Linked DNA regions of Homo sapiens: regions 2, 3 and 4 are each linked to region 1. Evidence: fine-mapped expression QTL. A gene starts in region 1. Each other region holds a variant in brackets. All regions are shown on one strand. Distances are between the middles of the regions.

The links. PIP is the estimated chance that this variant, and not a neighbour inherited with it, causes the effect.
Region 2: its variant is fine-mapped to the expression of MGLL in lymphoblastoid cells (GTEx, PIP 0.93).
Region 3: its variant is fine-mapped to the expression of MGLL in monocytes (Quach 2016, PIP 0.95).
Region 4: its variant is fine-mapped to the expression of MGLL in whole blood (TOPMed, PIP 0.96).

Annotation. Positions count from the first base shown.
Region 1 is chr3:127,819,385-127,827,594 of GRCh38, reverse strand. It overlaps MGLL (monoglyceride lipase), which reads left to right and starts at 5,080. Exons shown (of 8, transcript NM_007283.7): 1 at 5,080-5,286; 2 at 5,757-5,901. The coding sequence starts at 5,277. RefSeq lists a silencer at 4,119-4,638.
Region 2 is chr3:128,737,549-128,745,758 of GRCh38, reverse strand. All of the region lies in intron 1 of RAB7A (RAB7A, member RAS oncogene family), which reads right to left. Among named protein-coding and RNA genes, the nearest start is that of RAB7A, 15 kb to the right of the region's middle. The variant G/A (reference allele first, on the strand shown) is at 3,555.
Region 3 is chr3:127,725,343-127,733,342 of GRCh38, reverse strand. The region is part of intron 3 of MGLL (monoglyceride lipase); the gene reads left to right. Among named protein-coding and RNA genes, the nearest start is that of ABTB1, 56 kb to the right of the region's middle. The variant G/T (reference allele first, on the strand shown) is at 3,712.
Region 4 is chr3:127,756,996-127,764,995 of GRCh38, reverse strand. All of the region lies in intron 3 of MGLL (monoglyceride lipase), which reads left to right. Among named protein-coding and RNA genes, the nearest start is that of MGLL, 62 kb to the left of the region's middle. RefSeq lists enhancers at 1-16, 137-186, 1,977-2,026. The variant C/A (reference allele first, on the strand shown) is at 3,366.

The DNA.
Region 1 (8,210 bases):
AACAACTAAATAAATGGACATATATACCCATGTTCATGGATTGGAAGACTTAATAGTAAAAATGTCAGTTCTCGAAGAATATACATGTTTAATGCAATTCCTATCATAATCCCAGCAAAATTTTTAATGAATATAAACAAGGTTATTTTAAAATTTATATTGAAAGGTGAAGGAACTAGAATCGTTCAAAGAATCTTGTAGACTGAGTGTGGTAGCTCACATTTGTAATCCCAGTGCATTGGGAGGTCACAGTGGGAGGGTGGCTTAAGGCCGGGAGTTCAAGACCAGCCTGGGCAACATGGAGAGATTCCTTCTCTACCAAAAAAAAAAAAAAAAAAAAAAAAAAAAAAAAGTCTTGTAAATGAAGAATAAAGTGAGAGGAACCAGCCTATTCAATTTCAAGATTTATAGAGAACTTCAATAATCAAGACTGTGTGGTATTGGTGGAGGAATAGACACAGACCAAAGAAACAAAAGAGAGAACCCAGAAATAGACCTGTACAAGCAGGCAGCTGAATTTTACAAAAGTGCAAAAGCAATTCAGTGGAGGAAAGGCAGCCTTTTCAACAAACTGTGCTGGAGCAATGGGACATGTAGAGACAAATGAACCTTGATCTAAATCTCACACTCCAGACAAAAAGTAACTCAAAATAGCTTACAGACTTAAGCATAAAATGTAAATCTATACAACTTTTAGAGAAAAACACAGGAGAAAATCTCTTGAGGTAGGACTACACAGAGTTCTTAGACTTGACACCAAATGCATAATCCATAAAACAAAAAATTGATAAATTGTTTCTGATCAAAATGAAAACTTTTGCTCTGCAAAAGACCTTGTTAAAAGGATTAAAAGACAAGCTACAGACTGGAAGAAAATATTTGCAATCACACATCTAGTATCTAGTAGACTAATGTCTAGAATATACCAAGAACTCTCAAAACTCAACAGTAAGAAAACAACAAGCAAACAATTAAAAAATAGCCAAAGGCTGCAATGAACGGAGATCGTACCAACGCACTCCAGACTGGGTGACAGAACGAGACCCTGTCTCAAAAAAAAGAAAAAAGAAAAGAAAAGAAAGAAAGAAAATAGCCTAAAGGATGGGCGTGGTGGCTCATGCCTGTAATTCCAGCACTTTGGGAGGCTGAGGCCGGTCAGATCGCCTGAGCTCAGGAATTTGAGACCACCCTGGGCAACATGATGAAACCCCGTCTCTACTAAAATACAAAAAGTTAGCCAGGTGTGGTGGCCTGCACCTGTAGTCCCAGCTACTAGGGAGGCTGAGGCATGAGAATTGTTTGAGCCTGGGAGGTGGAGGTTGCAATGAAACAAGATGGCGCCACTGCACTTCAGCTTGGGCTACAGAGTGAGGCTCAGTCTCAAAAAAAAAAAAAAAAAAAGGGGGGTGGGGGGCAAGAAAATAGCCGAAAGACAAGAAAAGACATTTTACTGAATGGGATATATAGATGGCAAATACGCACATGAAACAACATTAGCCATTAGGCAAAAGCAAATTAAAAACCACAGTGAAATATCATCACTACACACTTAACAGAAAGACTAAAATTTTTAAAATGGTGACAACACTACATGCTGACATGAATGCTGAGAGACTGGTTCTCTCCTACACTGCTGGTAGGAATGTAAAATGCTACAGTCACTCTGGAAAACATTTTGGCATTCTCTTTAAAAACTTGCAATTTCCCTACAGCTCAGCAATTGCACTCCTGGGCCCTCATCTCAGAGAATGAAGACTTAGGTTCACACAAAAACATGTACACGGAGGTTTACAGCAGCTTTATTCTTAATCAACAAACACTGGAAACAACGCAGATATCCTTCAGCAGATGACCTGTTAGACACACTGTGGTACTTCCATACTGTGGACTGCTACACCCAACCCACCTGGAATTATGCTGAATGAAAAGGTGAATCCTAGAGGTTATGTACTTTATGATTCTATTCATAAAATATCCTTGAAATGACAAAATTTTAGAAATGGAGAACAAATTAGCAGTTGCCAGGGGTTCTAGGGGAGTGAGGATGAGAGGGAAGTGGATGTGGCTATAAAAGCATACCACTTTGTGGGGTAGAGACGTTCTGTAGCTTGACTACAGATATTCTATCAGTGTCAGTATCCTGTTGTGATATTTACTGTGGTTTGTGAGAAGTTGCCATTGCAGGAAACTGAGTAAAGGGCACATAGCATCTCTCTTTATTATTTGTTACAACTGCATGCGAATCTACAATTATCTCAGAATAAGTTTAATTAAAAGAAAAAGCCAGATACAGAACAATACGATCTGTCTCTTAACTCCCAAATTCCCAGTTGGCTGGCCACACACCACAGTCTCAGTTCTGTCCATAACCAAGTTTGGGGGATCTCTTCAAGTTTGCAAATGTCACTTCTACTGAGATCCCTCTGACAACTTCAGTGAAGTCTCTCCTCAAAGCTTTTTTTTTTTTTTTTTTTTTTTGAGACAGAGCCTTGCTCTGTCGCTCAGGCTGGAGTGCAATCACTGCAACCTCTGTCTCCCGGGTTCAAGCGATTCTCCTGCCTCAGCCTCCCGAGTAGCTGGGATTACAGGTGCCCGCTACCATGCCCAGCTAATTTTTGTATTTTTAGTAGAGATGGGGTTTCACCATGTTGGTCAGGCTGGTCTCCAGCTCCTGACCTCAGATGATCCACCTGCCTGGCCTCCCAAAGGACTGGGATTACAGGCGTGAGCCACTGAGCCCGGCCTCTCCTCCAAATTTTCAAGCTGTGTATTTTAAATCATAAAATGTTAGAGCCAGGAACATTTGAAATAATGCCTTGATAAAAGCGTCCATCAGACCCCCGAGCACCCTTCCTTTCCATGAATTATAACCAACGGAAATCCGGTGCACTTAGCATGTCCAGCTTTGAGTGAAGCCCCCAAGCTTCCTGCCCCTGAGACTGCCGCCCCTAAACCTCTCTTGCATGGATTCTGTAGAGCTGCCCCGACCAGAAGTCACTTAGCCACTCCTCTGCTCCAGGCCTCGTGGCCTGCTGGAGGCCAGACAGTGGGTAAGTCACGCTCAGCAGTGCCTACAACTCAAGCCACTGCTCAAAGGCTGTTGTTTTATTTCTCAAGTTAGACCACAGGCTCTGTAGCAACTTGGGCCTCCTTGGACACACACAGTGTGACGCTGAGACACAGTCCTCAACGCTGCTATGGTGTAGAATTTTTTGCGGAGAAAGACAGGAAGGCCTCTTGAGGTCAGTGTGAGACAGGGACACTCCACTGGGGCATAGGTATATCACTCACAGGTTGAAGGTAGGTAGACTGAGGCTCAAAGAGCAAGCGGAGGAGCTAATGTTCAACCCAGGTGGTGTGGAGTCTCAGTCCAGTGGCCTTACCCTCCACGGCCACGTTGCTAGTTATACTGGACAGAGCTCAGACTGTGCCCTGGCCTGTGTAGATGCACCAGAGGTTTTATCTGGGGGTCACAGCCGCTGGGAACGGGAGAGTTGCTGGGGATTGCCAGGAAGGGACAAGGCATTTGTAGCCATGCACCATCTGCTTTTACACTACCCTAGAGTCAAGTGGACCCCCTCCAGCATTTTTTTTTCCCCGAGATGGAGTCTCACTCTGTCACCCAGGCTGAAGTGCAATGGTGTGGTATCGGCTCACTGCAACCTCTGCCTCCCGGGTTCAAGCGATTCTCCTGAGTAGCTGGGACTACAGGCGCATGCCACCACGACCGGTTAATTGCCCCTCCAGCATTGTATGTGTCTGACTGCAATGAAGTGTGAGTGTGTCTGTGTGCGACTGTGTGTGTATGATGTGAGTGTGTCTGTGTCTATGTGGGGGCCAGGTGTATAGTCTGCATATGTCTGTGCACCTCTGTGTCTCTGTGGGTTGTCTGTGCCTATGTCTCGGCTTGTGTGTGTGCATGCATGTGTGGTCTGTGTGTGTCTGTATGCATGTGGTATCTCTGGGATGTGTGTCTGTATGTCCCTGCGTGCAGTGTAGTGACTTTGGGAGTGCACATGTGTACACGTGTGGTGAGTGTGCGGCCCTGCGCGAGTTGTCTGTGTACGTGTGGTGCCTGTGGGTCTGTGTGCGCGCGTGTGCCCGTGGGTGTGGTGTGTCCTCCCGCGCTGAGGCTCCCATGAACCCAGCTCAGTTCAGGCCTCCCTGACAGTCCTCGGGCGGCCACCCCGGGGCGCGGCTGTCCACGAGGCGCGGAGGAGAGGAGTGCGTGGCTGGGTCGGCGGGCGGCGCCCCCGCTCCTCCCCGCGGGCCGGGCACACGTGGGCCCCGGGCGCCGCCTCCCCGCGCCGCCCGCCGCCCGCCGGGTCCCGCGCGTCCCCACCCACCTCGGGCCGCCCCCGCCGCCGAGCCGGCCCAGGGATAAAGTGGCGGCGCAGACGCCGCACCCTGTCGCCGCGAAGCCGGTCGCGCGCAGCTCGTCCCGGCCCTGGCCCGCCGCAAACGAGGATCCGCTGCGCTCGGGGAACGCGACAGCGGCGCTCGTGGCCCCGGTAACTGCCTCCCGGCCCCTGCCCCAGCCCGCCAGTGCCGCCGTCAGGGGTGGGGAGCAGCACTGGGGTCCCGGACACGCCCGGCGTGGGCTCCCGCTACCCATGTGTGCGTGTGTGTGTGTGCACGGTGTGTGTGCGCGCGTGTCCGAGTGTGCGCGCGTGTGCGCGCGCGCGCGCCCTCCCTGCTCCTTCGCACCAGCCCCCAAACCAACTTGTCCCCATCAACTCCATCTTTCTAGTCCCCACCTTCCCCGGTGCAGACACCCGGCGAAGCCCACCCGGTTTTCCCAGCGGCATTTCCGATGACAGCTTCGGGGCTACGTGTCCTGTGCTGTCGGAGACGCACAGGAAGCAAAGTTTGTGAGAAGCCTTGGGGGCGACTTTGCCTTGGGCACCCGCATTTGTGCGTCTGCGAGGTGCCTCGGTGTGCGCGGAGCTAGTTTCCCAGTTTCCCGGGCCCCTCCCTTCTCCGAGCCCCTCTAGCGATTTGTTTAGGAAAAGTGATGACATGAACTAGTAGTGGAGAATCGCAGCGCCGCTCCCCGCCCTGGGGAGGGAGGGGAGCCCCGGAGAGCCTGCCGGTGGGAGCTGGAAGCAGGCTCCCGGCTGAGCGCCCCAGCCCGAAAGGCAGGGTCTGGGTGCGGGAAGAGGGCTCGGAGCTGCCTTCCTGCTGCCTTGGGGCCGCCCAGATGAGGGAACAGCCCGATTTGCCTGGTTCTGATTCTCCAGGCTGTCGTGGTTGTGGAATGCAAACGCCAGCACATAATGGAAACAGGTTTGTCATGTATCCTTGGAATTTCAGATGGGAGGAATAATCTGAGTATCATCCACCTCATTATTGTGCCCACTTGAAACTGTTCCTTGGAGATTTTAAGATAGATGGGTCTTCTTGCAGCTGGGTCTTTGTACCCATAGAGCTGACTATAATTTCCACTTGATTACAGCTAAAATAGTCTTTAAGATGAAGTTTCCTGAAATGATTTAAAATAAACACAGATGGGAAGGGGGAAAAACTGTAATGAGGCACTTAAAAAATAAAGTGAGCATTTTCTTAAGAACAAATGGGATTTTTCAGTCTTGGAGAGGTTTGCAAGAAATGTATGTATGTTTTAAACCTTTGAAACAGAGGGGTTTTTTAAACTGCTTTTAAAAAAATGTTACTGACTCTGAACTAGACTTTTCTCTCCTATCCATACATGTTCTTGAGATATTTCTGACTTTGGAATATGTCACTTTTCCTTCTAGGACCTGAAGACCCTTCCAGCATGCCAGAGGAAAGTTCCCCCAGGCGGACCCCGCAGAGCATTCCCTACCAGGACCTCCCTCACCTGGTCAATGCAGACGGACAGTACCTCTTCTGCAGGTACTGGAAACCCACAGGCACACCCAAGTAAGTCTTCCCCAGAAAGTCACCCCAGGTGACAGGGGAGCATGGCCCCTGCTTCTCCTCTGGTCGTTATCATGTGCCATCTGGGGCGGGGCCGCTTTCTCTATGACCTACTTCCCCTGCCGTTTTAATGTTAGGCTGAGCAATGTTAACAAAGCTAAAATGTATACTTTATAATTTTTAAATTTAAGAAGCAGGAATTCTTTTTTCATTATAACAACTCAGATATGGATCCTACCGTATGGCAATTTTCAAAAATTCCACATGACTTTATTTTTTGTACTGGAGTTGATTTCCGGTTGTACAGGCATTCATTTAAAATCAAACCCGACAATTAAGGAAAATCCCCTAGATGGATGAGAAACCCGAAGTAATACATATATCTTCACCTTTGCTCACTTTTCCTGCTTGTTTCTGAGCTTCTGAAGATGGCATACATGTGTCACCAGGAAGAAAGGGGCCTGGGTATTTCCTTCTGATTCCTTGCCAGCTCAATTACTTTGTACATTTTCCATCAAGGATTTGTCTTGCTATTAGAAGCAAACATTGGGACTATACACAAGACAGCTGGTCTCCTGCTGCTGCTCCCTCCTCTTGGATGAAGCAGGAAAACCCTGCTTGTTTGTGTTATTTGGAAAAAGAATTTATTTGTGGTAACCAATTGGCCTGGTGACAAGAACATTTCCTGTTCCAGGGACATTTTACCTGTTTTGTAGGCCTCTTGTCTCCTAGGGATCATTGTGTGGTTGGATTATGTCTCTCTTTGTGCTCCAGTAATCACCCAACCCTCACACAGGTGTAAAATTTCTTCTCTGTCTTCATCAAGGTATCTATGATCCAGGGAGCTGCACGTTAAAAACACAGAGATATGGACTTTTAAAACCCGGCATAGAGTCATAGCTTCAGGGCAGCTACACAGACTGGCTATGGTTTCTCTCTAGTGTTTTCAAGTGGGTAACGTGCTGAGAAGAGTTCCTACCAGTTCTGGTAATACATTTCTTAAAGAATGTGTCTGTACGTGCATACGCATTAGAGGAAGTGGGGGGGTTGTTGAGCATTATGATGCTAATTAATCATTAATTCTCCACTCTGACTTAACTGGCTGTAGAATTGCTCAATCTTGGATTAATTTCTAACAGATTAGTGGTTTGTGGTAATTTGATCAATATACAGAAAGAAGACAAATAATTGAAAATAGAAGTTTTTAATGTCTGAGTCTCAGACTTGGGGGGCTTTGTTGGTTAAGTAGTGAGGTTGTCCTAGTTCGAAGTCAACAAAAATAAAGAGGTTCTGCAGTCCTGGCACAGGGGGAGGGTGGTGGGTGAGTGGGTTAGAAACGGTCAAGTTGGCTGCCCTGCCCTCCCTTCGCCTGCGGGTGGTTTTCACAATCTCTGTGCTGAAGTTGCATTGCAGGGAGCCCTCTCTGCTCCGTTGCTTTTGCTCTAGTTAGAGATGATAACTCAACTTCTTAATTTAAACTGAGCTGCCTCTTGGATGTCAGCGTCCGCCTTGTGGTGGGTGCTGATGGGCTTAAGAACAGAGGTGGATGGTTGAGGCAGTTCGGCCCCAGAATTTGGAAGAAACCTATGGGTCTAGAAAAGGTTAAGGGAAAAAAATATTGAGGGCAGGAGCACTGAAATAGAAAGAGCAACAGAACCATGAGCATGTATGAACACTTTCCATAGTGTTATCCTCAGTTTACCAAAGAGGAAGGGGCTGGCCAAGGTCCTACCTACCTGTCCTGCCCTGCCTCCAGCCCCTGGAGATGATGCAGAGGTCCTGGAGGCCCCTTGCCATGACTCATGTTAACCCTGTGCTTGCTGGATCTTGGGGCAGTCTTGGGGGTCCTAGGGTGGGGGCTCAGGGCAGAGGTTTGTGCCAGCCAGCATGAAACACCTCTGTATCTTCATAACCGAGACCAGCTGCTCAGCCTGCCTGCCCTCTTGCATGATCTGGGAGACCCCCGCAGCATCATTATAATAAGTATTATTATTATTGCCTGCACAGAATCATTCACTCTGCTTTTAGGAAGAGGGAGGGGACCTCAAGTCACCAGGGCTTCAATCTTTCCCCCCAGGCTTTTTACCCCTCTTCAGCAAAACTAGGGCCTCGCTTTGTGCAATCCTGTCTCCTCCCAGTTAGGAAGAAAGAAGGGAGGAAAAGCAAGGGGCAAAAAAAGAGGAGACTGAACCCTCCCCCACTACTGTACCAACTGTGGGCAAAACCTGGGTTAAGAGCACCTCATCTCCAGCCCCGCCTCTGCTATCTTTCTCATAGAGACCCTAGGGACCTCAGAAGCCACCCCGGGGGCC
Region 2 (8,210 bases), 920 kb before region 1:
CACCTGGAGCAATGTCAGAGCCTGGACTGTGTTTCCTGGAACACTTCTCCCCTTCCCTGCTCTTCTGTGTCTTTTCTTAATAAGATGGTGCTCACCCGGGCCTGGTGGCTCAGGCCGGTAATCCCAGCACTTTGGGAGGCTGAGGCATGTGGATCACTTGAGGTCAGGAATTCGAGACCAGCCTGGCCAACATGGCGAAACCCCGTCTCTACTAAAAATACAAAAATTAGTTGGGCATGGTGGTGCGCGCACCTGTAATCCCAGCTACTCAGGAGGCTGCGGTGGGAGAACTGCTTGAACCAGGGAGGCAGAGGCTGCAGTGAGCTGAGATCATGCCACTGCACTCCAGCCTGGGCAACAAAGCAAAACTCTGTCTCCAAAACAAAAAAAAAGATGATTCTTAATAAACTACTGTTTCTTCCAAATTTTACAGTACAACTGAAACTCCAGAAAGATGGGTCACATCTAATTTTGCTGTTTTGCACCCTCCCTGCAGAATTGGGGCAGTGCATACCCTAGTTTAGGCAACAGGTAGACACGCAGTACTTGAAGTTAACCAGAAAAATTTAATGAAAAAGTGACTTCAGCCGGGCGCGGCAGCTCACGCCTATAATCCCAGCACTTTGGGAGGCCGAGACGGGTGGATCATGAGGTCAGGAGATTGAGACCATCCTGGCTAACACAGTGAAACCCTGTCTCTACTAAAAATACAAAAAAATTAGCCAGGTGTGGTGGCGGATGCCTGTAGTCCCAGCTACTCGGGATGCTGAGGCAGGAGAATGGTGTGAACCCAGGAGGCAGAGCTTGCAGTGAGCCGAGATCGCACCACTAAACTCCAGCCTGGGCAACAGAGCGAGAATCTGTCTCAAAAAAAAAAAAAAAGAAAAAGAAAAAAAGAAAAAGTGACTTCAGAGAAGTATCAAGGAAACCTCAACAGCAAAAAATTATTACAAGTGGCTCTGAGCCAAATGCAGGGCAGAAACACACACATTGTATGTGACCTCACACTGACATTACCTGGTTAGCTTTTCACAAGGACCAATGGCAACTTTAAATCCTGTGGGCCTGTGTTAATTGGGCCAAAAGGTCCACAATAGGATAAGGAATTCTTGTGAACCAGGCTGTGCTGGGAGCTATACAAGTGGCACAGGTGTGGTCCCCAAAGCAGCTTAGCAGATCACTTGGCTGTGCTGCTGAGGTTCCCAACTGGATAATGAAGGAGTGTGGCCTTTCCACTGTGATGTTTTCTTTTTATTACAGTGGAATGTAGTCGATAATAATGCATCATATTTCAAATAATAATGTATCATATTTCAAAATATCTAAGAGAATAAATTTCAAATGTCTCCCAAATGGATCAGTCCCTCTAAGAGGGCTGACCCAGGTATGGGCCTTTCTGTCTGCCCAAATCTATTGGTGAACCCCTCTAATAAAGTTTTCATCTCAGTTATTGTACTTTTATGCTCCAGAATTTCTGTATAGTTCCTTTTTATAGTTTCTATCTTTTTGAGACTGGGTCTCACTCTGTCACCCAGTGGAGTGCAGTGATGTGACCATAACTCAATGCAGCCTCCAACCGCAGGGCTCAAGTGATCCTCCCACTCTAGCCTCCCAAGTAGCTGGACTACAGGCATGTGCCAATTTTTTTTTTTTTTTAAGAGCAAGAATTTGGCCAGGTGCGGTGGCTCACACCTGTAATCCCAACACTTTGGGAGGTCAAGGCAGGTGGATCATCTGAGGTCAGGAATTCAATACCAGCCTGGCCAACATGGTGAAACCCCGTCTTTACTAAAAATACACAAGTTAGCTGGGTGTGGTGGTGGGCGCCTATAAACCCAGCTACTCGGGAGGCTGAGGAGGAGAATCGCTTGAACCCAGGAGATGGAGGTTGCAGTGAGCCGAAATCATGCCACTACACTCCAGCCTGGGAGACAGAGCGAGACTGTCTCAGAAAAAAAAAAAAAAAGAGAGAGAGAAATTATTTTGTCATGTTGAATAGGCTGATATTGAACGTATAGGCTCAAGCAATCCTCCCATCTTGGCCTCCCAAAGTGCTGGCGTTACAGGCATGAGCCACTGCACCCAGCCTCTTTCTTGATTTTGTTCAGAGACTGTATTTCTGCTCTCCTTCAGTTCTTCATCTGTGGTTCCTTTAGTCCACTGAGCATATTGCTGACAGTTGCTCTAATGTCTTTGGCTAGCAATTCCAATGTCCAAGCTGAGACCCCATCTCTACAAAAAAAATTAGTCAGGCATGGTGGTACACACCTGTGGTCCCAGTGAGAGGTGACAACATGCTGGTGGCCCTTGCTCGCTCTCAGCACCTCCTCGGCCTCGGCGTCTGCTCTGGCCATGCTTGAGGACCCCTTCAGCCTGCTGCTGTACTGTGGGAGCCCCTCTCTGGGCTGGCCAAGGCTGGAGCCGGCTCCCTCTGCTTGCAGGGAGTTGTGGAGGGAGAGGCATGGGCGGGAAACTGGGGCTGCGCGCGGCACTCGCGGACCAGCGGGAGTTCCGGGTGGGTGTGGGCTTGGAGGGCCCCACACTCGGAGTGGCCGGCTGGCGCCACCGGCCTGGGGCAGTGAGGGGCTTAGCACCCAGGCCAGCAGATGTGGAGGGGGCACCGGGTCCCCCAGCACCGCCAGCCCACCTGTGCCACATTCGAATTCTCACCAGGCCTCAGCTGCCTCCCCGTGGGGCAGGGCTCTGGACCTGCAGCCCGCCATGCCCGAGCCCTCCTGCGGTGGGCTCCCGTGAAGCCCGAGCCTCCCCGACGGGCACCGCCCCCTGCTCTGCAGCGCCTGGTCCCATCGGCAGCCCAAGGGCTGAGGAGTGCAGGTGCGCAGCATGGGACTGCTGGGCAGCTCCGCCCGTGGCCCTGGCACGGGATCCGCTAGGCGAAGCCAGCTGGGCTCCTGAGTCGAGTGGGGACTTGAAGAACTTTTATGTCTAGCTAGAGGATTGTAAATACACCAATCAGCACTCTGTGTCTAGCTAATCTAGTGGGGACTTGGAGAACCTTTATGTCTAGCTAAAGGATTGTAAATACACCAATCAGCACTCTGTATCTAGCTCAAGGTTTGTAAACGCACCAATCAGCACTCTGTGTCTAGCTCAAGGTTTCTAAATGCACCAATCAGTGCTCTGTGTCTAGCTAATCTAGTGGGGACTTGGAGAACTTTTACGTCTAGCTAGAGGATTGTAAACACACCAATCAGCACTCTGTGTCTAGATCAGGGATTATAAACACACCAATCAGCATCCTGTCAAAACAGACCAATCAGCTCTCTGTAAAATGGGCCAATCAGCAGGATGTGGCTGGGATCAGATAAGGGAATAAAAGCAGGCTGCCCGAGCCAGCATGGGCAACCCGCTCGGGTCCCCTTCCACACTGTGGAAGCTTTGTTCTTTCGCTCTTTGCAGTAAATCTTGCTGCTGCTCACTCTTTGGGTCTGCACTGCCTTTATGAGCTATAACACTCACTGAGAAGGTCTGCAGCTTCACTCCTGAAGCCAGCGAGATCACGAACCCACCGGGGGGAATAAACAACTCTAGAC[G/A]GGAGGAACGAACAACTCCAGACGTGCCACCTTAAGAGCTGTAACACTCACCGTGGAGGTCTGCAGCTTCACTCCTGAAGCCAGCGAGACCACGAACCCACCAGAAGGAATAAACTCTGAACATGTCCGAACATCAGAAGGAAGAAACTCTGGACACGCTATCTTTAAGAACTGTAACACTCACCGCTAGGGTCTGCGGCTTCATTCTTGAAGTCAGTGAGACCAAGAACCCACCAATTCCGGACATACTAGCTACTCAGAAGGCTGAGGTGGGAGGATCGCCTGAGCCTGGGAGGCCAAGGCTGCAATGAGTCGATGAGTCATGATCGCACTACTATACTCCAGCCTGGGTGACAGAGCAATGCCCTGTCTCCAAGGAAAAAAAAAATGTTTGTGTGTATGTATATGTATGCGTGTATGTATCTGTGTATATACGTATAAAACAAAACAGACGCAAATAAGACAGCAGTACTGTCCCACAGACAAAGAATGAAACAGAAGAGTTAAAAAACAAAAGACACAGCCAGGCATGGTGGCTCATGCCTGTAATCCCAGCACTTTGGGAAGTGGAGGTGGGAGGATTGCTTGAGTGCAGGAGTTCGAGACCAGCCTAGGCAACATAGTGAGACACCATCTCTATTTCGTAAATAAATCTATTTAAAATAAAAATAAAAAAAGACATGGAAGTAGGAAATATACTGTGTGATAAAAAAAATTTCTAGTCAAAGAGAAAAGATAATACAATAAAATACTGGGAAAACTATACATTTGGGAAAAGATTCCGACATATTATACCTGGCTAAGTGCTAGAATTACTAGAAGAAAACATTGTTTTTATTGTCCTGGGGGTGGGAAAGGCCTAAGCATAATATGAAACACAGAAAATGAATTGACAGATGTGACTACAGAAAAGTCTCTATGTTACAAAAACATGCCATCAGCCAAACAAGACCAAGAGATACAAGCCAGGAATAATGTTTGCAACACGAAAAGGATCAAAATTCTTGCCATATAAAGTTTATAAACTGGGAGAGAGGTGAGGTACAAGAACCTCACATGGGCTTTAGAGAACAAAAGCCAATTCACAAAAGACTATAAATATACAAAAGCAGAAAGTGAAAGTTAAAAAAAATTTTAAGTATATATAAAAAAATGTAGTTAATATTTTTTCTACATTTATTATACAATTATATATACTTAAATTTCTACAAAATTTAAGTGAATATAAAAAAGTAGTTAGTATTTTTCTAGTTTAATCTATCAAACAAAGAAACACAAGTCTTTTTTTTTTTTTTTTTTTTTTTTTTGAGACATCTCCCTCTGTCACCTAGGCTGGAGTACAGTGGAATTATCATGGCTTCCTGTAGCCTCAACCTCCTGGGCTCAAGTGATCCTCCCCTGAATCTCCCAAGTAGGTGTGACTACAAGTATGTGCCACCACACCCAGCTATTTTTTTTTTTTTTAACTTTTTGTAAAGACAGGGTCTTACCATGTTGCCTAGGCTGGTCTTGAACTCCTGGGCTCAACCGATCCTCCCACCTTGGCCTCCTAAAATGCTGGCATTACAGGCATGAGTGACCCACCAGGCCTGGCCAAAACACAAGCCCTCAACAATGAGACATCATTTAAATTTTTCCCATTCATTAAACTGGCAAGGATTAAGAAAACTGACAATTGACAAGTATATAAATGAAATTCTCAAACTACAAAATGTAAAGTATACAACCTTCCTGAAGGCTATATGGCAATGAAAACCAAATTTTAAGTATGTATACTCACTAAATCTTAAGGAAATGATTAGATAAGTAGGAAAATATAAATATTAAATACTTTTCTTTCTCTGTTGCCAGGCTGGAGTGCAGTGGCGCCATCTCGGCTCACGGCCATCTCTGCCTCCCAGGTTCAAGCGATTCTCCTGCCTCAGCCTCCAGAGTAGCTGGGATTACAAGTGCACGCCACCACACCCAGCTAATTGTTGTATTTGTTTTAGTAGAGACGGGATTTCACCATGTTGGTCAGGATGGTCTTGATCTCCTGACCTCGTGATCCACCCATCTCGGCGGCCTCCCAAAGTGATGGGATTGATTGCAGGCGGGAGCCACCGTGCCCAGCCCTTTTCTTTGTTTTTGTTTTTTTTGAGATGGAGTTTCGCTCTTGTTGTCTAGGCTGGAGTGCAATGGCACAATCTCGGCTCACTGCAACCTCTGCCTACCAGGTTCAAGCAATTCTCCTGCCTCAGCCTCCCAAGTAGCTGGGATTACAGGCATGTGCCACCATGCCCGGCTAATTTTGTATTTTTAGTAGAGACAGGGTTTTACCATGTTGGTCACGCTGGTCTTCAACTGACCTCAAGTGATCCACCCGCCTTGGCCTCCCAAAGTGCTGGGATTACAGGCGTGAACCACTGCGCCCGGCCCTATTAAATACTTTTCTTAAAGAGCTGGAAATAACTGAAATGTTCATTTAGAGGATTGTTAAATTATGATCAATATTATACAGTCATTAAAAATAGTATGTACTTATAAGAAAAGCTGACTATATGGTTAAATTTTTAAAAAGCTAATAGCAGAAGAGTATGTATTTTATGATCTCATTTAAATTTTATAAAAAATAAACGTTTTGAATTATAGCCATCAAATTATCCAGAATGACAGAAAAAAACTGTTCACTTTAAGACTTTTTTTTTTTTTTGAGATGAAGTCTTGCTCTGTTGGCAAGGCTGGAGTGCAGTGGCGCGATCTTGGCTCACTGCAACCTCTGCCTCTCAGGTTCAAGCAATTCTCCTGCCTTACCCTCCTGAGTAGCTGGGATTACAGGAGCGCACCACCACACCCAGCTACTTTTTGTATTTTTGGTGGAGACGGGGTTTCACCATGTTAGTCAGGCTGGTGGTCTTGAACTCCTGACCTCAGGTGATCCGCCCACCTCAGCCTTCCAAACTGCTGAGATTACAGGCGTGAGCCACCACTCCCGGCCCGCTTTAAGACTTTTATACTGCTTCTGTAATTTAGAAACGAGTACACATTTTAAAGAAAAATCTAACTGCCTACCAGTGCCTCTTGCCTCTCAGAAACGAATGGGCAAAGCTCCATATACTCAATGGCTAACAGGGTCCTTAAAGTTTCTGATGGTGTCAACTAACCAGTTAGGATGTTGCAAAAGCCACAGCAGTATGTCCAAGAGTCAGAGAATGTCAAAATACGAAAGGATCTTAAGGATTACACATTACTCTCGTTTTTCAGAAATGGAGACTAAAGCTTAGTAACAGATTTGACAGCCATACTATGGCCTTGCTTAAGAAAGCTTCTACAATCCTACAGCTTCTGACACACTGATTTCAAACAATGTGAAGAATTTACAGGCATTTTTTTTTCCAACCAGGTATGACAACAGATGTATTGTACATGTATCTATCAAAAGCCATTTGAGAAATATCCATTTAGTTCTTTCTTTCAAATGGTTAACATTTGGGGAAAAACAGGTAAATCAGTCTGGGACTTACCCTTAAGGCCCCCTCCTAAGGTAGGAAAGATACATATACAAAATCCACAACTATAAGATAATCTGTGGCAAGCCCCAGGGATTCAGTAAAAAGAACACTATAGACGTAAGTGGTCAAGAAAAGCTTTAAAAGTGGACTGGTACCTGAGTCAGGCAGGATGCCAACAGAGTACTGGAGCTAGAAAACAGAGATGAAGGGGAATTGACAGGAATCAAGATAAAGGAAGTAGGGAACAAAGTGTGGTAAGGAAAAGGTGAATAAAGCAACTCAGAGGAATATGTGTCTTTATCAAAAAAAACAAAGCCAGGAAGGCAAGCTGGAGACCATTTGTGGAGAGCCTCAAACAAGAATAATGGAAAAACATAGGGTTCTTGACGAGTAGTGGCTCACATCTGTAATCCTAGCACCTTGGGAAGCCAGGGTGGGCGAGCTACTTGAGCCCAGAAGTTTGGGACCAGCTGGGCAATATGGCCAAGACCCTGTCACTATCAAAAAAACAAAATTAACTGGGCGTAGTGGCACACAACTGTAAGCCCAGCTACTCAGGAGGCTGAGGTAGGAGGATGACTTGAGCTCAAGAGGTCAAGGCTGCAGTGAGCTGTGTTCAGGCCACTATACTCCAGCCTGGGCAACAGTGAGACCTTGTCTCAAAACATTAAAATATAAAATAAAAACAAGAACAAATCCTTAAAAAAAAGGGGAGTGGGGTTTCTAAAGACAGGGCAGAGCTGGGCATGGTGATTCATTCCTGTAATCCTAGCACTTTGGGAGGCCAAAATAGGAGGATCACTTGAGGCCTAGAGTTTGAGACAAGCCTAGGCAACACGGTGAAACTCTATCTCTTAAAAAAAAAAAAAAAAAAAAAAAAAAAAAAAACTACAAAAAAATAGCCAGATGTGGTGGCATGTGCCTGTAGTCCCAGCTACTGGGGAAGTTGAGATGAGAGGATCACCTAAGCCTGGGGAGGGCGTGGCTGCGGTGAGCCATGATGGCACCACTGTACTGTAGCCTGAGTGACAGAGTGAGACCCTGTCTCAAAAAAAAAAAAAAGAGAGACAGAAAGATAGGTGGCTCACACATGTAATCCCAGCACCTTGGGAGGCTGAGGCAAGCAGATTGCTGGAGCTCAGGAGTTCGAGACCAGCCTGGGCAA
Region 3 (8,000 bases), 94 kb after region 1:
GTGCCCATTTTTATGGCTATTTCTTGATGATATGCTAAACAAGGGGTGGATTATTCATGCTTCCCCTTTTTAGACTATACTGGGTAACTTCCTGACGTTGCCATGGCATCTGTAAACTGTCATGGCGCTGTTGAGACTGTAGCAGTGAGGACAACCAGAGGTCACCGTTGTTGCCATCTTGGTTTTGGTGGGTTTTAGCCGGCTTCTTTACTGCAACCGGTTTTATCAGCAAGGTCTTTATGGCCTGTATCTTGTGCCAAGCTCCTATCTCACCCTGTGACTTAGAATACCTCAACCGTCTGGGAATGCAGCCCAGTAGCTCTCAGCCTCATTTTACCCAGCCCCCGTTCAAGATGGAGTTGCTCTGGTTCAAACGCCTCTGGCACTCTCACCCTCCTTCCACCCACCGCTCCTCCCAGCTCTGCTCAGACAGCCCTGGGCTGGAAAAGTCACTGAACCTCCTGAGACCCAGTCATGGTGTCCGTCAGTGCACTCGGTGGCCTCATAGACATGAGGTCTCCAGTGGACATTGGCTGCCATTTGTTGTGGTTACTTCCAGGGTTAGCCTCTGCCCAGCCCTTCTGTTCCTATTGTATCCCACACTTAGAAATTTGTGAAGTCTTCAGAAGAACATTTCCCAGTGGCCTCCCTGTTTGCACATCTGCAGGTGCTGGTGAGTGTGAACCACCTGTCCCTGCCTGACACGGAACCAGATCCTTCTCAGGACTCACCTGGGGTGAGCAGCTCTAGGCACAAGCCCTGGGGTCTGGGCGTGTAGGGAAGATGCCAGCCCTGTGTTTTCACACAGCGGGTTCTTTATCTTGTTAAGAAGGCTTTTCTTTCCCTCCTCAATCTTCAGTCCCCTGCTTCCTGCTGTGTTTTGCCCTGAGCTGTGAGAGTGACAACCCTGAGTCTGGAGTTCACACCCTGTACTCAAGTCCCTCCCTGTGGCTCACCTACTGGGGGCTGAGCGCTGCCCTTTAGTCTCTCCAGGGTCTGTTTCCTTTGCTAGAAAATGGGGAAAGAATCCCTACCTCACAAGCTTGTGGGGAACAAATGAAACAAACTCTGGGAAAAGTGCTTTGTACGTTATGAACTCTCACACAAATACCAAGTGCTGTTTTTACTACTTTTTAAAGGCTTCGTCTCACTTTCCTTACGCAAAGCTATTTTTTATCAGCTTTTTCTTCTGTAAGAAAATGAATGCTAAGAAAGCCTGGTTCCCTGAAAAAAGGGAAGGGGGAGGCTGGCTCTTCCCATTCCAGCAGTAACAGGATCACCAGGGTTCTATAGGTTCCCGGGGGACTCATTTTGTACATGGTAACAACATGGAAAGTTATTTTCAGACAGAAATATTTTGTAGGAGACTATTTAATCATTCAACAAAGGATTATCACGAATTTATTATACTTCGCATCGAATGCAGTGCTGGGGTGTTTTAAGAGTACCTAGGATCTGTTTTAATTGGATATGGTAAGACACACAGACATGAACATTACTGTCATGAGGGGAGAAGTTTATTCCATTGACAGGTCCCTAGAAACAGATGGCAAAGCATGCCACGCAGGGCCCTGCAGGGGAGCACGGGGCAGGTCAGGGGCCAGAGGGAGAGGGAACTGTGGGCCGGGGCTTTTATTGTGGCTTCCGAGGGGAAGAACAGGTGAGGTGCAGTGAGCAGGTTTAGGATTGATTAGTTTGAAGAATTTCAGGGCTCTCAGATGCAAGGCTGTCCTTAATTGTCTGTTGCCTGGCCCTGAGGTGATCAGGACAGGGGGACAGTGGCCTGGAGCGGGGAGAGTCTGATAAAGGCAATTGAAGTCCCATCCATGATGGGGTGGGACTGTCTTTCCAGGATCAGCAAGGCCTGAGATGTTAAAGCATCAAAGTACAGCAAATTTAAAAACATAGTTAATACATAGAGACACAAAACTAAAAATATCTTAAAGTCTGCAAAGCAGGGTTCTTTAAAATAATAATAATAATAATAATAATAATAATAATAATAATAAAAGCCACCAAGAGAGCAGCCAGGCATAGTGGTGTGCGCCTGTAGTCCCAGTACTTGGGAGGTTGAGGCAGGGGATTGCTTGAGCCCAGGAGTTTGAATCCACCCTGAGCAACATAACAAGACCTTGTCTCTAAAACAAATGTGTAAATACATAAATAAAACCAGGAGAAAAAGAATTCTCATTACAGATGCAAAACTACTTCTCAACAAACTCTGTTTCCATGGTGGTCAAGGAAACATATTGCATCAGCTATAGCTAGAGTAATGGAATTGAGTTTCTTTGGTAAGTGGCCATTATGGAAACACTGCCTACAATTCATTTCAACAGACATTGATCAAACACCCACCTTCTGCCAGGCCCGTGCCAGGAACCCTAGGGAATGCACAGGTGAATAAAGTATGATCTTTGCTCTCCAAGACGGCCCTGGCAGACATGGGCACATGCACGGTGCATTCCCTCCCCAAGTCCACACAAACATCATCGTTCACTCAGGACTGTTTTGCGCCCCATCCAGCCACACTCACCTTAGAAGCCACTGCAGCACAGAGCCATGTGGCACCCCTGCTCTCAGGACCCTCCATCTATAGGGTGGGGGATGGTGCTAGAGGAGAAAACGAGGGAGGACTGTGATCAACTCACATGTGACAGGGGCAAGAAGTGCTTCAGGGTTATGGAAGGGGTATGTTGCCTTTGAACTTGCAGTAGCTTCTCCAATCTCCCTGCCCACCCTAAGCTCTCCATGACTCACCTCCTCTTCCGGAAGCTGCACCTGCATTTAGGGAATTACAGTGGATGCCATGGATGAAGGGATTTAAAGGGCCTTAAAGGACTGGGGCAGGGTGAGGACCTCAAGGAGAGGCTGCCTGTTCAGAGGCACAGGGCAGGAACGTGTGCGTATGCTTCAGGAACCGTGGGCAGGTGGGTGTGCATGTGGCTCAGATTGTGGCAGAGGAACAAGTAGAAGCCTTCCTGGGAGGCTGGGAATACTGGGCTGGGATGTGCAGGCTGCATTCTCAAACAGTGGGGGCCGTCGGACCACGACACCATCAGAGCAGCTTCCGGAAGAGGAGGTGGGTCATGGAGAGCCTGGGGTTGGGCAGGGAGATTGGAGAAGAAGCTACTGTAAGTTCAAAGGCAGCAACAGTCTCCACCCCTACCGGGATATAACATGCAAAGAAGGAGACTGGATGCAGAAATCTAGAAGGACTTGGGGACCAATTGAATGTAGAAATAGAATTAAAGTCAAAGACGACAGCCCTGTTTTGAGCCTGAATAATTTGGAAGGCTCACAGGGCCTTTAACCGCTATGTGAAGGAGAGCCAATTATTTGCAAGCAATCTGAGGAGCTGTGGAACAGCCAGGAGAGTCTGACCACAGGTTGGCAGGATGGATCTGTAGCTCTGGAAAGAAGCCAGAGTCAGAAACAGTTTATCCAGGAGATGCCTACATTACCATCAGAGTCAAAGCATGGGAGTGATGCGCTTGGACCAGGGAGAGCTCGCAGAGTGACCTGGGGCCTCCTGCATGTAATGTGTGTCAAGGGCAGGCTCCTATAATGTCTCAATAATATGGGGGCTGGCTCATGAATAAGCAAACCAGTGGAGCTGAGCAGAAATCCAGAAATAGACTGGGCTTGAGTGAAAAGGGAACTTTAACACATGATAAGGATGACATTGCAATTCAGTGAAGCAATGAAGGACTT[G/T]TTCATAAATTCTGCTGAGACGATTACAAACCATCTACATTTTGGAACTTCTTATAGATAGTGTTGCAACAATATTGTGGACATACTAAATGCCACTAAATCGGTACACTTTAAAATGGTTAATTTTTTGTGAGGTGAATTTCACTGAATTGAAAAAAAGGTCTGGTAAAAGATGGGTATCTCCTACCCTACACCAAGACAAAATTCAAATGGGTCAAAGATTCGAATGTAAAAAAATGAAACTATCTAGAGATGGATGATGGTGATGGTTGCACAAGAATGTGAATGTATTTAATACCACTAAACTGTACATTTAAAGTGGTTAATTTTTTAGGTCATGTATATTTCACTGCAAAAGAAATATAAGTCACAGAAAATATGGCTGAATTCCTTTATACCCGTGGAGTGGGGAAGGCCTTTATCACCAAGAATCAAAATTCAGAAGCCATAAAGTGAAAAGATTGATAACTTGACTATTCAAAAATAAGAATCTCAAAAGAAACCAAAAATAAGAATCTTCTGCTTGGCTAAATACAATGTAAACAAAGTCAAAAGACAAATGACCAACTAATATACAAACAGCTCCTAAATGTTAAGAAGAGATGCGAAACCCCCATAGAAAAAAATGAGCAAAGACATGAATACTCAGTTTACCAAAAAAGAAGTAATGGCTCTTAAAATCTGAGATGTTCAACCCACACTTTGTCTCCTATCATATGAGCAAAAACCTAAATGTCAAACACACAGTCTGCTGGTCATGCCAAGAGAAAGAGGCCCTCTCCCGCATCTCACTCATAGAGTGAAAGGTGACACTCCCACATGGAGGGGAATTTGGTAATACCTACGAAAATTACATATGCATTTACATTTCAGCCAAGCAATCCTGCATCTAGGCACATACCCTGAAGATACAACATCATGCAGATGACATAAAATAGTCCAAGTTTATCTACCGCAGCCAACTGTTTAATAAATAAGAGCTTGGATACAATCCAAGTGTTTTGCGATGAGAGAGTGCTTGAAAAAACTATGGTTCACCCCCACAGGGCGTACTACGCAACAGTAAGGCAGAATGGAGGCAGGTCTGGGATCTGTGACACAGAGTGACCTCCAGAATATGTTAAACGTGAGGAAAAGAAAACCTGGTAGAAATCCAGAAATAGACAAGACTGTTTCTAGAGTAGGATATGTGGCATACTATCTTTTAAGTAAGAAAGGAGGAAAAATAAGAATAGATGGGTGGATGGATAAATAGATTAGACAGAGAATAGATAGATGATAGACTAGATGGATAAATGGATGGATGGATGGATGGATGGATGGATAAACAGGTAGTTTTCTTATTTTTGCAAAAAGAAATGCTTAGAGGGAAAAAACAGAAAATAATTAGAATGATTAACGCTAGGGAACGAGCGGGGAGATGGAGGAGATGGGGTAGAAGTGAGACTTCACTGGATGAATTTTTTAATATATTTCTGACTGTTGTGTCAAGTACACGTTTTCATATTTGGAAAAGAAAATTAAATTGAAAAGCAAGAAGGAAAAACCTACAAATGGAAAGAAATTTAATTTGAAGTTAATGCATCTAATTATCAAATTAGTAACATAAGCACACAGAGAAAATAATTATAACCTGTTTGTAAGAATTTAAACTTCAAACACAATACTCTAGTCATATTATGATTGAACTATATTCTAAAGACAAAAAAATGCAAAGCAATTCTAGCTTCTTGCCGTAGGCTTATTATTGGTGGCAATATTGGTATTGTAATTTTGACGCTATGCTATAAGTAAATATGTTAATGCTATTAGGAACCAAGATTTTCAGTGTAAAAGAAAAGAGATAAAATACAAAATCAAAGAAGGTAAGAGAAAACTTTAGAACATTGATTTCTTGCTCTGTTTTTTTTTTTTTTTTTTTTTTTTTAGCCTTGCTCTGTTGCCCAGGCTGGAGCCCAGTGGCACGATCATGGCTCACTGCAGCCTTGACCTCCTGGGCTCAAACGATTCTCTCACCTCAACTTCCTGACTAGCTGGGACTACAGGTGTGCACCACCATGCTAGGCTAATTTTTGTATTTTTTGTAGAGATGGGGTTTTGCCAAGTTGCCCAGGCTGGTCTCAAACTCCTGGGCCCAAGAGATCTGCCCACCTTGGCCTCCCAAAGTGCTGGGATTACAGGCATGAGCCACTGCGCCTAGCCAGAACATTGATTTATAGTTGAAAATATCTATATGGACTCATTTTTTAAGAATTAAGTTTTCTTAAGTCTCATGTAAAAAAAAAAGAATTAAGTTTTTCAGCTCTGCCTAATGAAGAGCATGAAAGCAAAGGCACCTCGGTGGCATTGGACACTCCCAACTTTAAATCTTGATGTTTAAACACTGAAAGGAAGTGGGGCTCCCTGGAGAAATGGTTAATTCCAAATCTGGGACAAGGAAATTATAAGGTGAGCCTAGTACATTTGTGTTGAGGAAGGGGGGAAGTTCTTGGTAATGAATGGGAACACAGAAACAAGTCAAATGACAGACCATGACGGGAAACAATCAGATACAGGATGTAAGGCATTTACTAGCCTGGCCCCTCTAAGACTAAAGGAACATAGCAAACAAATACAGCATAAGAGTTTTGCATCCTGGTTCTAAAACACCAGCTGTAAAATACTTGGAGACAATGGGGAAATTCGAATTTGGATTGTATATTAGATGATATTAGGGAGCTATTGCTAATTTACTTAGGCAGGAAAATAGTATTGTAGTTTTGAAGAGAATGTCACTAAGCATGCTGAAGTGTTTAGGGTGAAGTGTTTTAATAGTTAATAGATTATTTTTATAACACTTTTTATTCAGAAATACCTTCAACTTCACAGAAGGTTTGCAAGAATAGTATAAAGAACCCCTGTAGGCCAGGCGCGGTGGCTCACACCTGTAATCCCAGCAATTTGGGAGGCTGAGGTGGGTGGATCACAAGGTCAGGAGATCGAGACCATCCTGGCTAACATGGTGAAACACCGTCTCTACTGAAAAATAGAAAAAAATTAGCTGGGCATGGTGGTGGGCACCTGTAGTCCCAGCTACTCGGGAGGCTGAGGCGTGAACCTGGGAGGTGGAGCTTGCAGTGAGCCGAGATTGCGCCACTGCACTCCAGCTTGGGCAACAGAGTGAGACTCCTACTAAAAAGAAAATAAAAAATAAAAAAAAATAAAAAACCTTTAGATCCTTTACCCAGATTTGTCTGTTGTTATAATCTGCAACTTACTTTTCTTTCTTTCATTCTTTTCCTTCTTTCTTTCTTTCCTCTTTCTTTCTTTCTCTTTCTTTCTCTCCCTCCCTCCCTCCCTTCCTTCCTTCCTCTCTCCCTCCCTCCTTCTCTCTCTCTTTCCCTCCCTTCCTTCCTTCCTCTTTCTTTCTCTTTCCTTCCTTCTGTCTTTCTTTCTTTCTTTTCTTTTCTTTCTTTCTTTCTTTCTTTCTTTCTTTCTTTCTTTCTTTCTTTCTTTCTTTCTTTCTTTCTTTCCTGCTTTCTTTCTCTTTCTTCTGTTTCTTCTCTTTCTTTCCCTTTCTTTTTTTTTTTGAGATAGGGTCTCACTTTTGTCCAGGCTGGAGAGCAGTGGTGCGAGCACAGCTCACTGCGGCCCCAACCTCATGGGCTCCAGTGATCCCAAGTAGCTAGGATTACAGGTGTGCACCACCACGCCACCAATGTCCAGTTTCTGTTTTAAATTCTTTTTTAGCAACAGGGTCTGTCTTGTTATATTGCCCAGGCCAATTGTGAACTCTTGGCCTCAAGCGATCTTTCCACCCTGGCCTCCCAAAGCACTGGGATTACAGATGTGAGCCACCTTGCCCAGCCTGCAATTTACTTTTAAAAGATTCAGCCATTTTTATATTCATAAATGTGTATGTATACAGCAAATAAAATAACAACTGTTGAATAAAGATAGTAGGCATATGGGTTTTTATTGGAATGTTTTTTTCAGTGTTTTTGTGCATTTGAAAGTTTTGTAGTAAGAAGCTGGGGAGGAGCCCTATTTCAAACGTTGGAAGATCTTCAGGATATGGTGTCAAGTGAACGAAGCCCTACACAGAGCAGGATCTGTTGTGTGTTTCTTTGTGTTTAGGACCGGGGTAAAAATTAGGATTTATATTTGTATTTGCTTGTAAAGAGGCTGAGACACTAAGAGAAGAGTTTAGGGGAAGATAGGGAATCGGGTGGATGGGAGGAAGTGGGAAAGGGACCGTCAGTGTACATCTTTCATGCCACTTTGATTTTGTACCATGTGAATCAAATGTC
Region 4 (8,000 bases), 62 kb after region 1:
CTTATTTGCTATGTGACTCTGGGCAAGTTACTAACCTCTCTGCATCTCAGTTTTCTCATCTACAGTAAAGGATGAGTCAAAGTCTCTACCCCATAGGGTCAGTAGGGGGATTAAAAAGGAACCAAATGAGCTCCTCTATGTGGGGGGCCTGACCCACAGAGAGTACTCCATAAATATTGGCTATGTTGGGGTGACTACTTTTCCGCCTTAGGAAAACCTGATTTGACTCCAGTCACAGTTTCATGCTAACTAGTGTGGCTTCCAAATTTGAAAAGTGGTGTGATATTACCTACGGCATGGAGTATTTATAAGAATTCTCAGAGAGAGATGATATTCATATTTAACATTAATTAATATTTATCATATGCCTGATTATCGATGCAAAGCTTTTCAGACGTTGCCTTGAACCTCATTACAGCCTTGGAGTAGGTGTGGTAATTATTACAGATGAGGAGAGCACGTGAGCTTCCCAAACATGCACCTCTTCTCACCCACAGCAGAGCACAACTGTGGCCCGGGCCTCTCCTGGGGGCTTTCCGTCCTTCTTCTCTTTTATTCTGCACCACAAGTATATGGCCTTGATATCTGTACGCCCATTCTGCAGGCAGGGAGACATAGTAAAGTCACAAGGTGCTGAGAGGCCAGTGGGACCCCTTCCACTCCAGGTCTGCAGCCTCGTTCTCTCTGGCACGACTTCTTCCCCAAATGAGACAGAGTTGCCCTTTGTCTTTAGGCCATTAGGCTTCCTAGAACCCCAGGAGTCTGTGGTGGGAGCAGATGCTCACAGAGGAGAGTGTGTGCCCCTCCCAGGGCCCATCTTTATCATGTCAGAGGTGGGTTCCTGCATCTGAGAGGAAAGGGGAACACAGCTGGGGGTGGTATTCAGGCAACTTCAGCATCAGGCATGGGGTGCCACCCAGAGAGGCCATGTGATGGGCATTGGGGATTTGCAGCTTAGACAGTGGCATGCAAGCTCCGAGAAGCTGGAGGAGCGCCTGAGAGCCGGGAGGGAGGAGGGTGGAGGTGGAGCCTCTTGCTTCCACCCATGTCGGAACCTGGGTCTTCCTTTCCTGTCTTCCCAGCACGCAGCTGAGACTGCACACTGAGGTGGGTGTAATGACTACGGCGACATCAGTAAACTTAGCTGCTCCTTGAGGACAAGACCCATCTGCAGTTTAGCCTTACCTCCCCCTCCCCCACACAGGGGTTCAGTCTCTGGGAGAGTTTGAGGACGGGAGGGCAGTAGGAAGAGGAGAAGGGGCGGGAGGGGAAGGAAGGAAGCTCAGCGAGGCAGCACAGAGGGAAGGACCACAGTGGCCGAGCTTAGGGCACAGACAGAGGTCCACTCCAGGCCAGGTCAGGGGCTGGATTGGCCTCAGCACAGGTCCAGGTGGGGCTCCAGGGAGATGTCCCCACCCAGGTTGCTTGGGCAGGGTCCGAGATCCAGATGGCCGTGGCTGCTGTGGCAGGCCCCTTGGCAAGCAGAAGCCACACTGTGGCATGCTTGTGAGGGTCCCCCATTCTACTGAGTCAGAGCTGGCCTTGAGCCTGAGGGGCCCGTGCTACCACAGCAACTGGGTACAGCCCAGTGTTTTCTGCATCCAACCTGGCTTCGCGGGGCCAGAGGGTGAGAAGAAAACAGACATCACTCTAGGTCCCCAGAAGAAGCCGTTTCGGTCTTTGGCAGTTGTTGCTATCATCCTCAGACTGGCATCTTCAAATCCATCTTGGAGATGATGTACCCTCCGGAGCCTTTCTTTCTGGCACACCTGTCCCCTGGCTGCTGGGGCAGCCTGCACACTCACCGCACACCTGACATCCTATGAATCCACATCGCTGCACCCTGCCTAGGTAATAAGGACCTTGCATGGTGGTTGTTGTTTTTCTATCTCCAAATACTGAGTATTTCCCTAAAGACATTCAAGGAGGGTGGATCACACATCTTTCCCCAATCAGAGTGACACACTGTGATCCAGCACACATGAAGATCAAGGGCAAAGCTGGGGAGGCTGCCATGGGGGGAAGGCAGAGTCTGGAGTGACACTGGGTTCCAGTCCCAGCTGCAGGGCACAAACACAGACCTGGCCTGAGGCGTCCCCATCACATCTCCTGTCTGTGAAGTTGAGATGGTAATAATGGTACCTAGGTGTAGAGCTCCAATCTGTAAACTTACCATTGATAAATTGCTTGGAACAGGCCCTGGCCCAGAGCAGCATGCAGGAAGTGCACCTGTTACTACGTGCATACTCATAACTGAAGCTGCAGTAATGACCAGAACTGCTCTCATTTGATGGTCCCTGACAGAGCAGTGGGCTGCAAGGAACCTGCAACGAAGCCTCTGCCCCTCCCTTTCTCATTGTACAAGGGTAGGGGACAGACTTCGAGGTCCCACCAGTTGGTGGCAGTTTTGGACCCGGATCTCAGGCCCCAGCTCCCAGAACCAGGTTCTGTGCACCTCTCCACCCATTTCGTAAATTAAACTTCAAAATCACTCTGGCTGCAAGTGGACCAGAAGAAAGGACTCCTCAAAGGAACTTTAAAATAGGTAGGGTCAGGGCTGGCTTCGCTTTGACACAGCCCTTAAGAAAGGCTGGGGGTGGGAATGGGCAGAGTCTGTCTTGTGAGCTGAGCCTTTCTGAAGTGGGAGCTCAAACAGCATGTGACCAGGAAATGGCTGGCCCACCAAGAACTAAAAATAAACGGCTGTAATGCTGCCAACCGTCAGGGCAGGCGGGGAGGACGCGGAGAGCTCAGGAGCAGAGCCCAGTGGGGTCCTGCTCAAAATGAAAAGAGAACCGCATGCCGGCAGACAAGGTGCTTCATGTGTCACTAACGTGGAAGCAATAAACCACGACTGCACTGTCAGGCTGCCCTTTCTGAAGGGCTTCATATTCTCTATTTCATTTCATTTCATTTTCCAAGGCAGGTAAAGCCATCGTCATTTTCATTTTACAGGAGAGACAACAAGCCAGGAGTGGTAGAGCCAGGATCAGAATTCCAAATCACAGATCTATTAAGCTGTGTTCTCGGTGTCTTGGTTTCTCCCCTGTTAGAGGTAAAGGGAGAAATTAAAAAGCAAACAGAGGACCCAAACCTTGCATGGGATCCTCAGATGCAGTCACAACTCCCCGGCAAGTGCGCTGGGTGCACTACGCATATTTAGTGCTTGTCTGGGCATTTGAGAATGAAGCTCTGCCTGGAGTCCCTCCCTGAAGAGCTGGGGTCCCAAGGGCCCGGCCGATGAAGCGAGGAGCCGAACGTGCCAGGAGGGAGGCAGCCTGCGTGGCAGTCCAGCTCTGCCCACGGCCGGCTGTGCGCCAGCCCTCTCTGTGCCTCCGTGTCCTCACCAGCCAAAAGAGGAAACC[C/A]ACAGTACCTTTGTGGTGGACTGGTGTAGCCCAGTCGCTTAGGGGAACACGTGGACACACACACAGAAGGCACTTGAAATGCAGCTTGAAGGGCAGTTTGCAGTCTCTGGTCCAGGCAGTGCAGAAGTGGCCTCTTTGACTGCTGTCTCTGAGTGTTCTGTGGCTTCCACCCTGGCTGTGGAGGTTAGTACTGCTTGCTGGAGAAGGAGGAGCCCTGGGGAGGCCTCCACCCTGGTCCCTCAAAGCTTCTCATCCCCACCCTAAACTAAGCCAGCACCCCCAACACAACACGGTGGCTCTAACAAGACACAGCAGCAGGGGAGAAGCCAGTTTGCCCAGTGGGCCCTGGAAAGTGACGCAGTCTGGTCATCAGCACCCCAGAAATCCCTCCCAGGCGGTGGGCCCCTTGATAGTGCGAAGGGTCCGGATGGCCACAGGGAATTGTACGTTATCTGAACACAGCAACTGGGGCCTCTGCTCTCCGCATCTGTGTGGCACCTTGCTCATAGCAGCTGCTCAGTGAAGGCTTGCAGAATTACAAGGCATTTCACAGAAATGATGGTTTCTTTGGATACGCTCAAGTTCACACTTGTGAATCCTGTATGTGTGGGTATGAATTTGGCCTGGAGGATGAGCCCTGTTTAAAGAAAATCAAATAACGCTTGCCCAGCTGGAAAAATCCATGACTTCTGTGCTAATAATTTTTTCCACGGATCACCCCATTTAATCCTACGGCAGCAGAGTAAGGCAGGCAACGTCCCTATGGAGGAAACAAGCTCAGAGATGCTGCCTGATTTATTCAAGCTCACAGTCATTAGGGGGCAAAGTCGGACTGAAATTCTTACACACTTGCACCTTGCTACAGTTTTAACTTTTGGGAAAATGCTTTGGGGTGCAGAGCCGCAGGTTCCATTGGACCAGCGCCCCCCAATCAGTGCTGTGCCTCTGAGCAGCTTGGCGTGGGGCACAGCCCCCAGGCGAGTGGCCCTGGGGTTTCTGCATCATCTGACAGAAGTGCCGCAGCGGCTCCAGGAATAGCTTGCGACGCGCAGTCTGTCAGGGGTGCCGTGCCAGCTCCTCACCTCGCCTCCTGCCAAGGCTCTGCTAGAAGATGCTCTGACTCCCAGAGGTGGCGCCTGAGCCTGGATGAGGGACAGAGCCAGCATCGGGGCTGACTGCAGGGGGAGAACAAGGTCCTTTCACCTTCATTCCTCAGCACCCACGTGCCCTGTGTGGCATGGTGTGAGCCCAGAGGGGTTGGTCCCCTGTTGACAAGTGGAGCTTAGCCCAGAGAGTTCTGTTATGTGAACCTGCTGGGTGGAGGCAGAGTGGCCTGGCCTACTCTTTATACCTGTGTGTCCAGGACAGTCACTTGACCTCTCTGAGCCTCAGATTTCCCATCTGTATGTTAGGCCTGAGGCTTCCTATGGAAACGTTAGCTCATAGGACCCCACACAAACTCAATGTCCCATAAATGGATGCTTCCACCCCTGTGTGGCTCTGCCCTTCCCTCCCGTCATCTTTCCTTTGCTTTTCTTTGAAAGCTGTGTGCACATCCAGCGCTCTCCCTGCTACACCACTGGCTTCCTTTCTCCAACGCAGAAAACCAAGCCGTCTAAGCAGGGCCTGCCCGCAAAGACAGTCAATGTGAGAGGCAGGGGCCAGCTGCCTCCTCCTCAGAGTCGTGGAGAAGTGCTGGATCATTCAGACCCCATAATCATAATTATTTCTCTCCTCAGTTATTGTACAGACGCCACCAGATTGGAAAAATCACTTAAAGGTTTTATTCAGTGGAAGCTTTCTTACCAAAAAAGGAGAATCATCTGAAGGCCAAAGGGACCGATTCCAAGGACCCTGTGTTGAGTGAGGGAGAAGGAGCTGGGCTGATCTGAGCAGGTAGGAGCTCTGCATCAGGCCACTCCTTCCTCCCAGTCCACACGAGAACCAAGAGTCTCTGAAGTCATCGGGATCTCTGGGCTCAAAGCATCTCTGTAAAGTGGCACTGCTTCTGTGAATTACATTCTCTCTTCCCTTCCTTGGAAAATGACCTCTAAGCAGGGGAAGGTGCAGTGAGACATGAGAACATGCCCACAGCTGAGATTTTTAAATGGCCGCAGGTGAACACAGACATCCCTCTTGAGCACGTGATTCAGAAGAGAGGCACACCCACCTCCAGTGAGCATCTACTGTGTACCAGGCACGGTGCTGAGAGCCTTGGTCACATCAGGTGTGGTAGGGGACCAAGGGAGGGGTAAGGACAGTCCCGCAGAGGTTGGAGATGTTAGCCAGGGTCACGCATAGCAGAGAGAAGGGTTGAGAGCCGCCTGACTCTGTGTCTCAGTTGCTGGGGTCACAGAATAGGAGAGCTGGTTTATAATAATGGACGCTGTGAGAAATAGCTGCCAGGGCCGGGCGCAGTGGCTCACGCCTGTAATCCCAGCACTTTGGGAGACCGAGGCAGGTTGATCACTTGAGGTCAGGAGTTCAAGACCAGCCTGGCCAACATGGCGAAACCTCATCTCTACTAAATACAAAAATTAGCCAGGCTTGGTGGCATGTACCTGTAATCCCAGCTAGCTACTCAGGACGCTGAGGCAGGAGAATCACTTGAACCTGGGAGGCAGAGGTTGCAGTGAGCCTAGATCACACCACTGCACTCCAGCCTGGGCAACAGAGCAAGACTCTGTCTCAAAAAAAAAAAAAAAGAAAAGAAAAGAAAAAAAAAAGAAAAAGAAAGAAATAGGTGCCAGGAGCCCCCAGAATATCCTTTCCTGTGAGGGTCATGTTTACAACTTACAGCCAGTGCACTTTTGCACATTTTCAAGAATGATATTTTTCTCCCTAGCAATTGCTTGTCATGATATGAAAAATCGACCCATTATCCCATTGTTTTTTATAACACATATCTGATTTTTAAAGACCCTTTTAAAGGGGAAGACAGAAAAGAAAATTACAGGTGACTTCCCCCATTCTCCTCGCTCGGTACAGCCGAATTGTTAGGAAAGGAGACTGGCACTTTGTCAGCACTAACAACGGAACACACCATTTAATTATACAAGGCTCAGGGGCTGCTCTAAGAGGGCCAAGCTGACCTGGGCTTCTGTCTAGCTTGAAAAACTTCTAGCTATTGACTTTTTGCAAGCTCCTTCACATCTCCAAGCCTCATTCGTGTATTTATTCATTCGTTCAGTCTATAATGTATTAGCTTGATGCCCAGTTACCAACTCCAGGCATGGTGCTGGGCACAGGAGATGCAGCTGTGAACAAAACAGACACAAGTCCCTGCCCTTGGCAGACAATGAGCAGCAATAAATGACTTTAGGGTATGTCCATTGGAGATAAGTGCCACAAAGCAAAATAAAACCTTGGAGGAGGAGGGCGGGGCAGTGGGGGCAGGGGGCCATGCTCAAGCTGCTGGCTCCACTGAGAAAGTGGTAGTTGAGCAAAGACCCAAAGGAGGCAAGGAGGAGCCTCACAGATGACCAGGGGAAAAGGGGGTGGCCAGTGCAAAGGTCCTGGGGCAGGAGGGTGCCTGACTCATGAACAGTCGGGAGACAGGAGGTGAGGTGAGAGGAGAGCACTGTAGGAGAGGAGACAGAGGTCGTGTGCAGCTGGCCACACAGGGCCCAGAGATCCTCAGTTTTCTCCTCTATAAAACAGGAACAGAAGCCCCCAGGCAGCTCCCGTACAGATTTGATGGAATAACATCAGCCAAGTACCTACAGGTGTGCTAGGTGCCCCACCAGTGTAAGCAAGTGTGCGTTTCTTCCCGGCACTCCTGTATCAGCAATCTGTTTACAAGGTGTCGATGACACGTGGCTGAACACATCTGGGTCAGGAGGACCCTGAGCTTGGATTCGGATCTACCCAGGTTGGGGTCAAGAAACACTCTCTCGGAGGCAGGTCCCCCAGCTTCGTGACACTGTCACAGCTTTCTTCATTGTCCCCAAGGTTCTTTGGGTGCTTTTTCTTTTAGGGAGTTCAATGAAGAGTTTCTTTCTCTGGTGTAGTCACTTCACTTGGAGTTACGATTCCTGCTGGAGTTGGCAACTGGGCATCTAGCTAATCTCAGTGTTCTTTGAAAGCGGAGAGTTCCAGAGCTAAGTCATCAATTTCTTGAAGCCAAAAGCCATCTCACTGGTTGTATATATGTGTGTGTATGTCTGTGTGCATGTGTGTCTGTGTGTATTATATATTATATACAGGCACTGGGATATGCCTAGGGCAGTTTCTAATTTAAAAATTAGAAATCAATAAATATATGTAGATTGCTGCCTTCCCGACTGAGCCAGTAGTTACTGCAATAATGCTGCATAACAAATACCCCCGAAACTCAACAGCCTAAAACAACAACTCATGCTTTCTCCTGTGTCTGTAGGTCAGCTGTTTTAGGCTGGGCTTGGCTGGGTGTGGCTCCAGGCCTCAAGTTGGGTTCGGCTCTCTCCACATGTCTGTCAGCTTCCAGGGACAGTGGGCTAGGAGAGTCATGTTCTTTTCTAGGACAACAGCAGAAGCTGTTGATGGTGGTGATGATTTTTAAAGTCTGCACTCAGACTTTCTTACCATCACTCTGTCCACCTTCCATTGACCAAAGCATGTCACATGGCCAAGCCCAACATTTATTTACAGGGTGGG